3 linked regions of the Homo sapiens genome follow. The protein of the gene in region 1 purifies or fractionates together with the protein of each later gene. This does not show direct contact. Each region holds a gene or a part of one and is shown on either strand. Other genes may lie near its edges.

Evidence for each region.
Region 2: the proteins of RAI2 (region 1) and SLC2A9 purify together in Homo sapiens (affinity purification with mass spectrometry; one large-scale study listed by BioGRID and IntAct). This does not show direct contact.
Region 3: the proteins of RAI2 (region 1) and CRYGS purify together in Homo sapiens (affinity purification with mass spectrometry; one large-scale study listed by BioGRID and IntAct). This does not show direct contact.

The regions. Positions count from the first base shown.
Region 1 is NC_000023.11:17,851,153-17,854,804, reverse strand, and holds part of RAI2 (retinoic acid-induced protein 2), read left to right. Parts: intron 1-3,652.
Region 2 is NC_000004.12:9,993,960-9,997,611, reverse strand, and holds part of SLC2A9 (solute carrier family 2, facilitated glucose transporter member 9), read left to right. Parts: intron 1-670; coding exon 671-831; intron 832-3,086; exon of another isoform or gene 3,087-3,251; intron 3,252-3,652. UniProt on the Homo sapiens protein: High-capacity urate transporter, which may play a role in the urate reabsorption by proximal tubules. May have a residual high-affinity, low-capacity glucose and fructose transporter activity. Transports urate at rates 45- to 60-fold faster than glucose.
Region 3 is NC_000003.12:186,541,472-186,545,718, forward strand, and holds the start of CRYGS (gamma-crystallin S), read right to left. Parts: upstream 2,910-4,247; 5' UTR 2,856-2,909; coding exon 2,835-2,855; intron 1-2,834. UniProt on the Homo sapiens protein: Crystallins are the dominant structural components of the vertebrate eye lens.

The sequences.
Region 1 (3,652 bases):
CTGGAGCACAGGAAGAATCCGACATTCTGGCGAAAAATAATTCATTAACAGCCAGGGTATTACCAGTTCCCTGGAAAAGCTCCTCCAGCTGCACTGTAGCAACTGTTCTTTTTCAGCAGCAGAATCGGGCCGTGCTGGCAGCCAAGACTGGGTGTGTTTGGGCGTTTTTATTGTTGTTGTTATTTTTGCCTTTGTGTGTATGGCCACTTTTCCCTTATAATTCAGAGAAAGAAATGGAGGCCTGGAAGGGTTGAAATGGTGTAGCTGTCAGCCATTCTTTCCTTCGTGCTTTAAGCCTGGAAGCTCCAGGCTGACTGTATGAACATAGGTTTTTCCTGATCAAAGCCCATCCCCAAAGTGGGGGCACTGCAGAACCACATAGAATGTTCTAGGATGAAAGGAATTTTAGGGAACTGAAACACCTGTTCTTAAGATTCTCTGAAAGCAATTGGCTGAAGAATCCCTCCCCACCCCCGTATGCACAACCAGGCAGAAAGTCCTATCTTGGCCGTGTGGAATTCTTTTGCTTACTATTAATTGGCACAATGGGGCCAAAGTATGTGATTCATCATCCTAGTTTTGAGGGCATTTGGAAAGCCAGGCAAGCATAACCAAGAGAATGGGCTGCATGTTTTGCTCACTAAGGAATGATTGAATCTACAGTAAATACAAGGAAAGATTCAGGAAGCTTTTTGTGCTCTGGAAAAATATGTCTTTTTAAAAAAATAAGGTTTTTGTCTGCCTGTTTGTTTTTTAATGCCTCATGCTCAGAAGTGTGTGCCCAGCTAGCAAAAAACGGGAAAGAATAGCATTTCCTTGTTTTAGTTTTTTTAAAACTCTAATTGCAGTTTAGGTAAGATACAGTGTATTGATTTTGGTTTTGTATGGAACATAACTAGATAATCATTTTATTTTATGAGATATTAATTTCCACCCATTTAGACTGATGAAATATGCATTTAAAATATCCCATACCTACCCCCACCATCATCACAATATTTCTTTAATGTTCCTAGATTCAGATGGAGAACCTATTTCATTTATATGGAAAAGGAGTAAATATGTTAGTCAACATATATGTAAACCTGCCTTAGATTTTGAAAAAAATGGGATCCTTTCCCTTTTTTTAAAAAAAAAATGAATGTTAAAGGCCAAGCATATTTGGCTTTATCTGGAGCATGGTTTCTTCACCTTGGCCCTGTTGACATTTTAGACCAGAGAATTGTTTGTTGCAGGGGACTGTCCCATGCACCTTAAGATGTTCAGCAGTATCCCTGGCCTCCACCCACTAGATACCGTTAACACCACATCCTCCTACCCTAGACCTTGCCAAATGTCCCCTCTGGGACAAAATTAGCCCTGTTGAAGACCACTTGTCTAGACCAAAATTTAATAAGTACTTTGTGTTTTTTTGGAAAATTCCATTTGACATAATAAAAGACACAATTTTCCCCCTCTGACTTTTATAAATACAATTCATGGGCATGATTAATTAACGGTTGGAAGTGGGTCATGTGCGTGATTTAATTCTAAGGTTGGTGGAAGGGTCTATAAGATTGTATAAGCATAGAGACTTTTTCAAGGCAGGCAATTTTATAAGTCATAGGTGATTGGGGGGCACATTGTAAGAACTAGTGGCTTCTCTGGTTTTTCATAAAGAGAACAGGTTTATTCCTCCCTAATTTCTTTTTCATATGCACCTGATTCCAGGCATGACTTCAAAGTCAGCAGGCATCTTCCCCCACCCCCAGCCCCTCCCCACTGTCATTTCTCCGGTAGCATCTTAAGCCCGAGCCAATTGATTTAGCCATTTAGTGTACTTGTGAGAGCTCTGCTCGTAATATTGTAATGGACTCATTTCAGATTGTAGCAGCCCTTTACCCACCACTAAATTCCATGTTTTCCAGTACTATTGAGAGAGAAAGTCAACAGTACTTTCTCGGTAGATGGATCATTTTTCGTAATGATTGAAATTCAGGTAGCCCCCATCACCCCTGGCAATTTTGTTTCCTTTTACACACATTTGTTTCCTTGAAGCAATTCTCCTTCAGGCAGCTAGCACCTGGTAATGCCTACAGGCAGCAACAGCAGATGAAATGTTGCCACCAGGACAAGCCCTCAGCCATATTCTTTCTGGTAGTCCCTTGAAAGGCTAGAAAGGAGGGTCATGCCTTACACAAGGAAGGTGTCATGCGGGCAAACCATGCCCTGCCCATACATGGAAATGGAATGGGTGTTTGGGGGGCAGGGAGAGGGCAGAGAAGTGGATCACTCATTATACAGGGAAAGTGTTCCCCAGTTAGCCCTCCCCTGCCAGCCTCTGAGAGTGATATGGGAGCAGGGGATGCTGGTGAAGGATAGGGGCAGTTGTTCAGTGCAGAAGTCAACATAGGCCACTTCATTTTGCAGCCATCCAAGGTAGGCTGACCTTTTCCAAAGAGTGTCATGTGTAGGATTCCCTTGCATACTAGCCAGTGAGGAAAAATGGAAAGGTGAGCATTGAGGGATTTGGCAAGCCAGCGACACTTCATTGGTGAGTTCCAGCATCTCTTGAAGAGTAGTTGAAGTCTTCCTTGTCGCCATGAAGAGAGAGGCAACAAGCTGGTAGGGATCCACAGTGTGCTGGGCTCAGGCGGATAAATAATTGATTTGTAGCACGTGACACTTGGACATTCTAAGTTGCCAGTCCGTTGCAGGCCAGGATTCAGGTGATGGTTGCAACACTGGGAGAGGAAATAGGATCATAAATCTGGGCGTTGGAGGCCAGTTTCGTGGTGCAGAGGCCACTGGGGCCACCGCTGTGTGTGCAGAAGCAAACAGACAGATCTGAGTGGTATGTTGTTCCTCAAAATAATGGCAATGGAAATGGCTGTGAAAAACATTTAGGAACTTGTCATAAAAATGCAAACAGTCTTCCTTCTATAGGGAAAAGCTAAATAAACCCTATTGCAGCTGTATTAAGTAGAAACAGATTTGAAAATCGGGTGTTTTTTTTGTTTTGTTTTGTTTCTGAGACACTTATTTATAGCAGGTTGGGCAGAGGCTGCCACTATCTTTCGAGACTCCGGAAGAGTGTTTTCCAGATGGTCCTTGCTGTTTTTCTCTTTATTAAGCTTAGCTAAACAGTGCTGTGCTTGGAAAGGGTCATAGAAACCAGTGTTACTTTTTTTCAGATTACAATGGTCATTGATTGGCTAGCAATCAATGGATGGGAATGGATTGAGCCTGTGCCGATGAATTTCCTATTGCATTTTATAAACAAGAAAAATGTCAAGGAAAGCACAGAATAGGGATACTCTTTCGACTATGCACATCAAAGCTTTGAAAACCATACAGAGTTACATTTCCTATTAATTTCCATTTAAATTTTGTTCTAAAATAATGCTCCCCTCTTTGTGAAAGCTCTACAATGTTACCGTTTCCTTTCCAACATCTAAACAATGTCCAGATCCATTTCAGATTGAGCAATTAGCTCTGGATGCAATTTCCTTTTATGAAAAAAAGAATCACTAGCCCTCTAGACCAAATATAAAATTATTGAATGTGAAAATATCAATATGGGGCCATTTGTTCTAAGATCCTTTTTGGTCTATCACTGGCATTTTAAGAAGGTTAGAAAAGGCCAATTCTGCCCTGCCCTTCCATGTTCGAC
Region 2 (3,652 bases), on another chromosome or scaffold:
TCTCATGCCTCAGCCTCCTGAGTAGCTGGGATTACAGGTGCATGCCACCACACCTGGCAAATTTTTGTATTTTTAGTAGAGACAGGGTTTCACCATCTTGGCCAGACTGATCTCGAACTCCTGGCCTCAAGTGACCCACCCATCTCAGCCTCCCAGAGTGCTGGGATTACAGGTGTGGGCCTCTGCGCCCACCCGGTATGTGCCCTTTAACACACCTCCACAGCAATGCTGCGGTGCACTAGAATTGGAGAAGCCCAGCTATGAAGCTCATCATAAGCTTGGGGTCAGATCTGAGTCCAGCTCCCAGGTTTAGCACTTACCTAGCAAGTCACTTTGTCTCCCTGAGCCTCAGTTTCCCTATCTCCAAAATGAGGTAAAAAGAGGAAACATTTTGTTACAAAAAAAGTACCTTGGGATAGGCAAAGATGCAAGAAACACAAAAAAACTAGCCATAAAAGAAAAAAAATGCTCATTTGAATATAATAAAGATTAACATCTTCTGCTCTTCCCAAAATTTGTTAGAAGAGGCCAATGAGATAAAGCTCAAACAAATTAGCAAAGTGCTATGCATGAAAATGCTCTGTACAAGCTGTTTTGTTTTGTACACTGGCTTGCTTCAAGCAGCAGGAGAGAACAGAAGGAAATAACATGGTTTGTTGTTTATTTTCAGTACATCAAGGCCTTTTACAATGAGTCATGGGAAAGAAGGCATGGACGTCCAATAGACCCAGACACTCTGACTTTGCTCTGGTCTGTGACTGTGTCCATATTCGCCATCGGTGGACTTGTGGGGACGTTAATTGTGAAGATGATTGGAAAGGTTCTTGGGAGGTCAGTAGGAGGCTGTCTCTATCTGGGGGTGCCCTCCATGTTCATAATATATCTGTGTCATTGTCAGGGTCCTGACAGGCAACAGAACTCCACTCAGGCAGTTCAACTGGAGAGATTCAAATGCCCAAAGGGGAAAGGGGAAGAAATCAGAGACCAAGGTCCAAAGATAACTGAAGCCATGGACTGCAGGCTGATGAGCAGCAGCAGAAGCGTATAGGGACTGGGCTGTGTCAGAGCCACAGCACCCACATGGGGGAGGAGCAGGGAAGAAATGCCCTGACCCCTCCCTCCTCCCACCCTCCATCCTGCTGCAGAGGTGCACACTGGTCACACCCATGTGAAAGCCAGTAAACCAGGAAGTCATGTTGCCATCCAGGAGATGCTCCCGGGGCATAGAGCAGAGCAGGGAGGGGAGGGGAATTGATCTGGGTGTTGGGGCAAATGGAAAACACAGTGCAGTGCCTTGGAAATTGTTCCACGTAAGTACATACAGATCTGCTTTTCCAGAAAATTGACTGCTTAGACAGTCTTCCACTATATGGCTGTCTCATCATTTATTTAGCCACACTCCCTGACTGAGAGACATTTAGGTCATTTCAGATCATTTACATTACAAATAAGGAAGCAGTGAGAATCAAAAACTTCATATCAGCCTTTCCTACCCAGGCCCTCTCCAATCAGCTCACTTGACCTTGTGAGCCTCATTCCTCACTTATTTTAGACAGGAATCCTTCTCTCAGAGCAGATTGACTTATCAATGAATCCCCACAAACAATGCTTTCTCTGTATTCTTGTTCATAACAACAGCATCCTGGGAGCCAGTGAGCAGTGTGTGGAAAGAGTAGAGCTTCTCCAAGTGATGGAGGAGTCGTCACATCAATCTGATGGGGCCAGAACATTCGTGTCTTAACTTGAATCATGTGTCTTCCACTTACTAGCTGTGTGCCCTTGGCCAAATCATTTAATTTATTTGAGCCTCAATTTTCTTATCTGTAAAATAGGGATGATAGTTTCTACCTGCAGGGAATGTTACAAGAGTTAGACCAAATGAATGGAAGGAGAATGGCCATGAGTTGTAGCTGAATAAATAAAAATTCTTGTCATTGACCACATTATTTGGCATTTCCCTCATCATCACCTTGACATCACTACCTAGTAAGTACTCGACTAACCTCCTTATTGCATTGACGTGAGTTGAAGAGGAGATTTATCAGACTCCAGAAAATCTCCTCAGACCATGGGATTACAGAAACCCGATTAAGAAGGAGCCCATTTCACAATCTGAAATGACCGAATCCTTTACATTCTTCCTCACAGCCCAACAAGGAGAAAACTAGAGTTGACGATGTTTCAAAGCAAGATTTCTAAAAGATGGGACAGGAAGCCACCCTGAAAACATCCAAGTGGTGCTTATGAGGGTCTGTGATACCTGTGAGGTAGGGGAGGTGCTGACATTTTCCTTGTCCCCAAGCCCACTTTCAGAGCAGTAATTAATGGGAATTCAGGGCCTGGAAATACAACTACTGCATGATGTAGTGAGAGATGCCATTGTCTGAGGTCCTTCAAGGTTCCAGCCACTCACACATTCTCTTGTTTAATTTTCTATCTGCTGTGGGGTCTGTAGATGGGGAATGGGAGGTTAGAGAGGTGAGGGCATCTGCACAAGCTTAGCTAGCTTGCACTGTGGCTGAGCTTAGGCTGGAATCATGATCTTTCCACTATGCCAAGCAGATCTTAGTTAGGGGCCAATTCCCAATGCTGGGAATGTACTGTAAAACCATGACTGTTTGACAACAGGCTGGCACTCAGATTGGCATCACTGGCCAGGGTCCCTGAGGCATGGTCACTAAGCCTCCTGCCCAAGCCAGACCCTGCCCATGGTCCTCTTGCTTGTCCTAGTGGGATGGAGTCACTCCCCATGCCCCAGGATCTGGCCTGTGATGTCTCCTTGCTTTATACCTGACCGTGGCATTTATACCCCAAGGCTGCTCCTCAAGGAGGCTCTGAACCCATGCAGATGGAATAGGAAAAGGAACACTAGAATCGGGTCAGAATGCCGTGGCTCAGCAAGTCCTGACTCTGCTGTGTATCAGGTGTGTTACAAGGGACTTTGACACCTCACTTCTCAGCCAGCATTATTCTTACCTATAAAATGAGGGCAATGAAAGTAGCTTTACTACCCTCACTGGCATGGCAACAAAAAAAAAAAAAAAAAAGGAAAAGGAAAGCAAAAGAGAAAACAACTTTGAAAATACCTTCAATCTCTAAGTAATGGAGGAGTCATAAAGAAGTGAGGATGCAGAAAAAGATCAGATCAAAGGATGTGTTGGTTGTTATGCCCCAAGCAGCTGCCAGTTTCCTTTTCATCATTATGAGAGTAAAAGTTGATTTGGGCTGAAGTTTCAGCTTGAAGAGCAACTCTGCTGGGGAGAAAAGGAGCAAAAATTGAAAAAGAAAGCTACCATCTATTGACCTCCTGCCTTGTCCTTGACATCCCATATATCATTTACTTCTTAAAACTCCATGTTTGCATCATTACCTGCACTTTTCAAATGATGAGTCCAAGACCCAGTGGTCAATTGGACCAAGGTTTCAAAATGGAGTTGAACTGAAGTTCAGATCTGCATGTGTTTGACCACAGGCCAACACTCTTCCTGTGACATGATGCTATTTGAAACGCCTTCCTGATGCTCTGTTATTCCTCTCCCATGGGGATTCTCAGGGAGGGAGAGGAAACTGCAATGGCAGCCTGGGAGGCCCAGTGGAAGGTGCTCAAAGGTATAGCTGGGGGAGACATTCCAGGGAAGTGGGGAAGAGTTCC
Region 3 (4,247 bases), on another chromosome or scaffold:
AAAAAAAGAAAAGTCTCAATACTACTGCTTTCTTGCTACGTGACCTTGGACAGGGCAATGAACCTTTCTCTACAGCTCTTCATTGGCAAAACAGGATGATAGTGTCTCTTGCAGACGGTATGCTCTGAGGGTCCAAGGGGATGTTGATAAAGTACTTAGTTGAATAGCTGACTCATGATTAGCAATAAGCTTTTGCTACAGTTTTTACAGATGAAGAAGTTAAGTGATTGGCCTAATGTCACTACCTAGTTACAAGTTAGTTGCAGACAAGCTGGTGGGCTGCAGTGCAAAACTCCTGGTGAGTAAACTATTGTTCACTTTATTTTCCTTTGCTGTCTTTCTGCCTGCCCAGTTAGCTTCGTTTAACATGGCAGCACTTACTCTCTTGGACAATGACCAAGGCTGGGCCTAAGCCTCAGGGGCTCTTCCTCATGACCTGTGGAGAGATCTTTAGGAAAGTCAAATAACTTCTCTAAGAATGGATAGATTCTAAACTCCTTAATTCATATGTTCTATTTGCCTTTGGTTTTTGACCAAACAAGTCACTAAAAAGAGCCTTTGCAAAAGATATCCTATGGGAAATGAAGTTAATAATACCATCTATTTCACTTCATAGTTTCTCACATTTACTGCCTTCTGCACATTTGCGTGACTAATTATCAATATCTGCTAAGTAAAAAGATACATGATGCCTGATACGGTCACCTGATGTCCACCCTCCCAGGAGACCAGCCAACCATCCAAAAGTTGAAACAAAGCCCTCATCCTGTTGCTATGGAATCATTACTGAGCTCCAAGACTAAGCTCTCCTTTCAGTGGGAGACCTTCTATATCTCAGAGCCAGAGAATGTTGCACCTAGCTGTGCTCAATTTCTTTTTGTAGAATAACCATGAAATCCATGCTATTGTCAGCCTAGAGGTTTTGACCTTTGGGCAAAATATTTTGTAGAGAAGGCTAAAGAAATGTGCAGAAAGTTTTCCTAGAAATTATTACAAAATTCCTATCATTATCAGGTTTATTTTTGGAAAAATGGCCTACTAATCCAATGCAGCAGAGAGAAAAATATCTTGAGTATCCCAGAAGTAATGAAAACATACTTAGTAAAATCTATTCCTTTTGCCAAGCCCATAACTCCTCTGATTAAACTGCTATCAAGATAGTGGGAAAGGAAGAAGCAATGAGAAAAAGTAAGAAATAATTTACTATCTCCTTTACCCTAGCAAGCAAAAGTTATTTAACTAAATGAACGACTCATCTATAAATAAAAAAGAGTACACTATTACTACTCTGCAAATCTTTAAAAGCAGATGTTTTCATCTAAGATGGTTGTAGAACAGCTTTACCTCAAGATACATGGATATCCCTCCTCTAAGGACCAAAAATTCTTTTTTAGTGGGATTTGCATGGTATATTTTCAAGAACCTCAGAGCACTGAAGACACTAATTTTTCTCCCCAAACCTCCTGAATGACAAGCATGATTATTAGTTCTATTTTCCAATGAAAAAAAAATCAAGCACTAATAAATTACAGAACAAGTTAACAGGTACCTTCTGACCTGATGCAACAGGAAGTACACAACATTGCCTATGTAGCTTTCTTGCCAAATATATTTATTCTGAATCTAAACATGAGGAAACAATTAGACAAATCTAGATTGCAAGACTTTCTAAAAGACATCTAACCTAGGCTTTGAAAAATGTCTCAAGAACAACAACAAAAAGGGTAGAGGGACATTTTTAGAGAGGCTAAAAAAAACTAAAGAGAATAAAGAGACATGACAACCAATTACAATACATGTTTTTCACTGGATCCTGTATTAGGGGAAAAGTCCACCATGAAGCACTTTTCTGGGGACAATCAGGGGAGATTTGAATATGGTCTCAATATTAGCTATTATATTTATGATAACTCTTGGGGACATGCTAGTGATACAGTGTTTATACAGGGAAATGCCCTTGTTTTTAGGAGATACATGCCTAAATACTTAAGGCAAAAGTATAATAAAATCTGCTACTAATTTTCAAATGGTTTAATAAAGAGAGATGGAAATAGGAGAGACCAAATATGGCAAAATGTCAACAACTGGAGAATATAAGTGAAAGATATACAAATATTCATTCAACATTTCTTTGCCATTCTTTGAGGATTCAATGGGTTTGAAAATTTTCAAATAGCTGGGGGTAAAAATCAGGCAGCAGTTTTGTCTCATCAGTGGAAGCGCAAAAAAGAAAATGAAAGCATATTCCCTCATTCCCAAAGCCCTACCTGAAAGAATAATTTCCAATCCAGTAATTGTGAGTTAAATATTTTAGAGGCAATTTTCTGACTGTAAGGGAGCACTTTATTTGAGGAACGAGTAAAAATAATTGCTTGAATGGAAGAGAGATGTAGGACTTTATTCACCTGATTGGCCCATCCACTTTGGCCTTTTAGAACACAAATGGTTGAGGCTAAATTTCAGAAAACAAAATTTTAATTGATTATTAAAAGTTTTCTGCTCAATATAATCCCCATTAGCATGCCTTATTCCTATGGAGAATATCAGTTGCATAGAATATTAGTTGCTAGAAGGCAGAAATAATAATGATATTTATAAATTACCTGTATAGTATTTAACATAGCACCATACATAAAGATAAACCCTTAATAAAGTGTTCGGTAATTCTGTTAAGGGTGGAAAATATAATAAGCATTTCTTAATCTTCTCTCTCAATCCCAGTTCTCTAACCACTATCATACTCACCTCTAGGCAAAGAAGCAAAAGCTTTTCTGTGTGTTGAATGCATCATTAGGTGAAAAGCGGGTAGGCTAAAAATCAATATGACTACTTACCTTGGTTCCAGTTTTAGACATTTTTGGTGCATAGACTGGTTTTCCCAGTGCTGAAAGAAATTCAGGAATGGCTACAGAGAGTTAGAGGCACAGTGACATTTATATGGGCTGGTTTCAGTCAAACATTTGCTTAGTCATGAGAATAGGATCCAAAAATTGAGTCAGTCATTTAGACGCTATTGATGGTTTCTAGAAAAAACAACTGGGATTATAAAATAAAGGAAAGCTTCAGTACCGCCTTTAATGCTTACCAAGCAGGGCTGCATTACAGACTTTGCTGAGTCAAGAAACCAAAACCCAGACAAAGTTGTAAAAATTAAGAACAAAAGAGTCTCTCTTTTTTTTTTTAAGCAGCCTCTTTGAAATTCCTAATGTCCTTTTTCTTCAACAAAGCTTGTGAGAGGTAAGAGTCAGAAGACTACCTCTATTTCTGGACAGAAGTGACATGTTCTAAACGCAACAAAACTTACATGACAACTAAATGCAATGCATGATCTTGTGTTTGGGGAAAAAAGTCACTATAAAGACACTGCTGGGACAATCAGAAAACATTTTAATATGGACTGTAAATTAGATAATACTATTGTACCAAAGTTTAACTTCTTGAATTTGATCATTGTACTATGACTAGGTAAGAGTATGTCTGTTTCCAGGACATGTATGCTACCATTTAGAAGAAAGGTTCAAGATGTCTGCAACCTATTCTCAAATTGTTGAGCAAAAATAAAACAATACTATCATGTTGAGTGGTAAAGAGAATGTAGCAAAATGTTAACAACTGGTGAATGGAATCTAGATAAAGGGTATGTTAAAGTTCACTGACTTATTCTTGCAACTATTATTTAATTTTTTTCAAAACACAATTTTTTTTAAAAAAAGAGCTCTAATCCATAAGAAGGGTGCCACCGTATGTAGAAAAGTGACTGTGGGACTCCTGAATTTGCCAAGGGTTAGCTAACTAAACACAACAAGCTACTGGCTAGGTGGTCTTCTTTGCCCACAATACAACATTGGAACATGATCGGAGAACATTTTTTGGCCCTAATACACCTCTGACTTTAGGAATGAGATTGCATCTTATGTAAATACAAAAAAACCCAATAAATTAACTTTTCTCCATTTTTAACTTTAACTGATCAAGTATATTCTCAAAATCAAGTATATTCTCAAAAGTCAAACTTCCTCATCTTTCTGTTAACAAAACTAACAAATATTTTAATAAATGGGATGTATTATGGTCAATTCAGAAAATGGCAAATGTGCCTTAATATAAAGATTATTGAGAAAATATTAAGCTATATGCTTGGTTTTCTGAATTTTATAAAATTTTATAAAACTTTAAAACTTTAAAAAAAGTATCTGAGTACCATTTATTTCATTAACAAATAGCAATATCTAAAATATATTTCTATT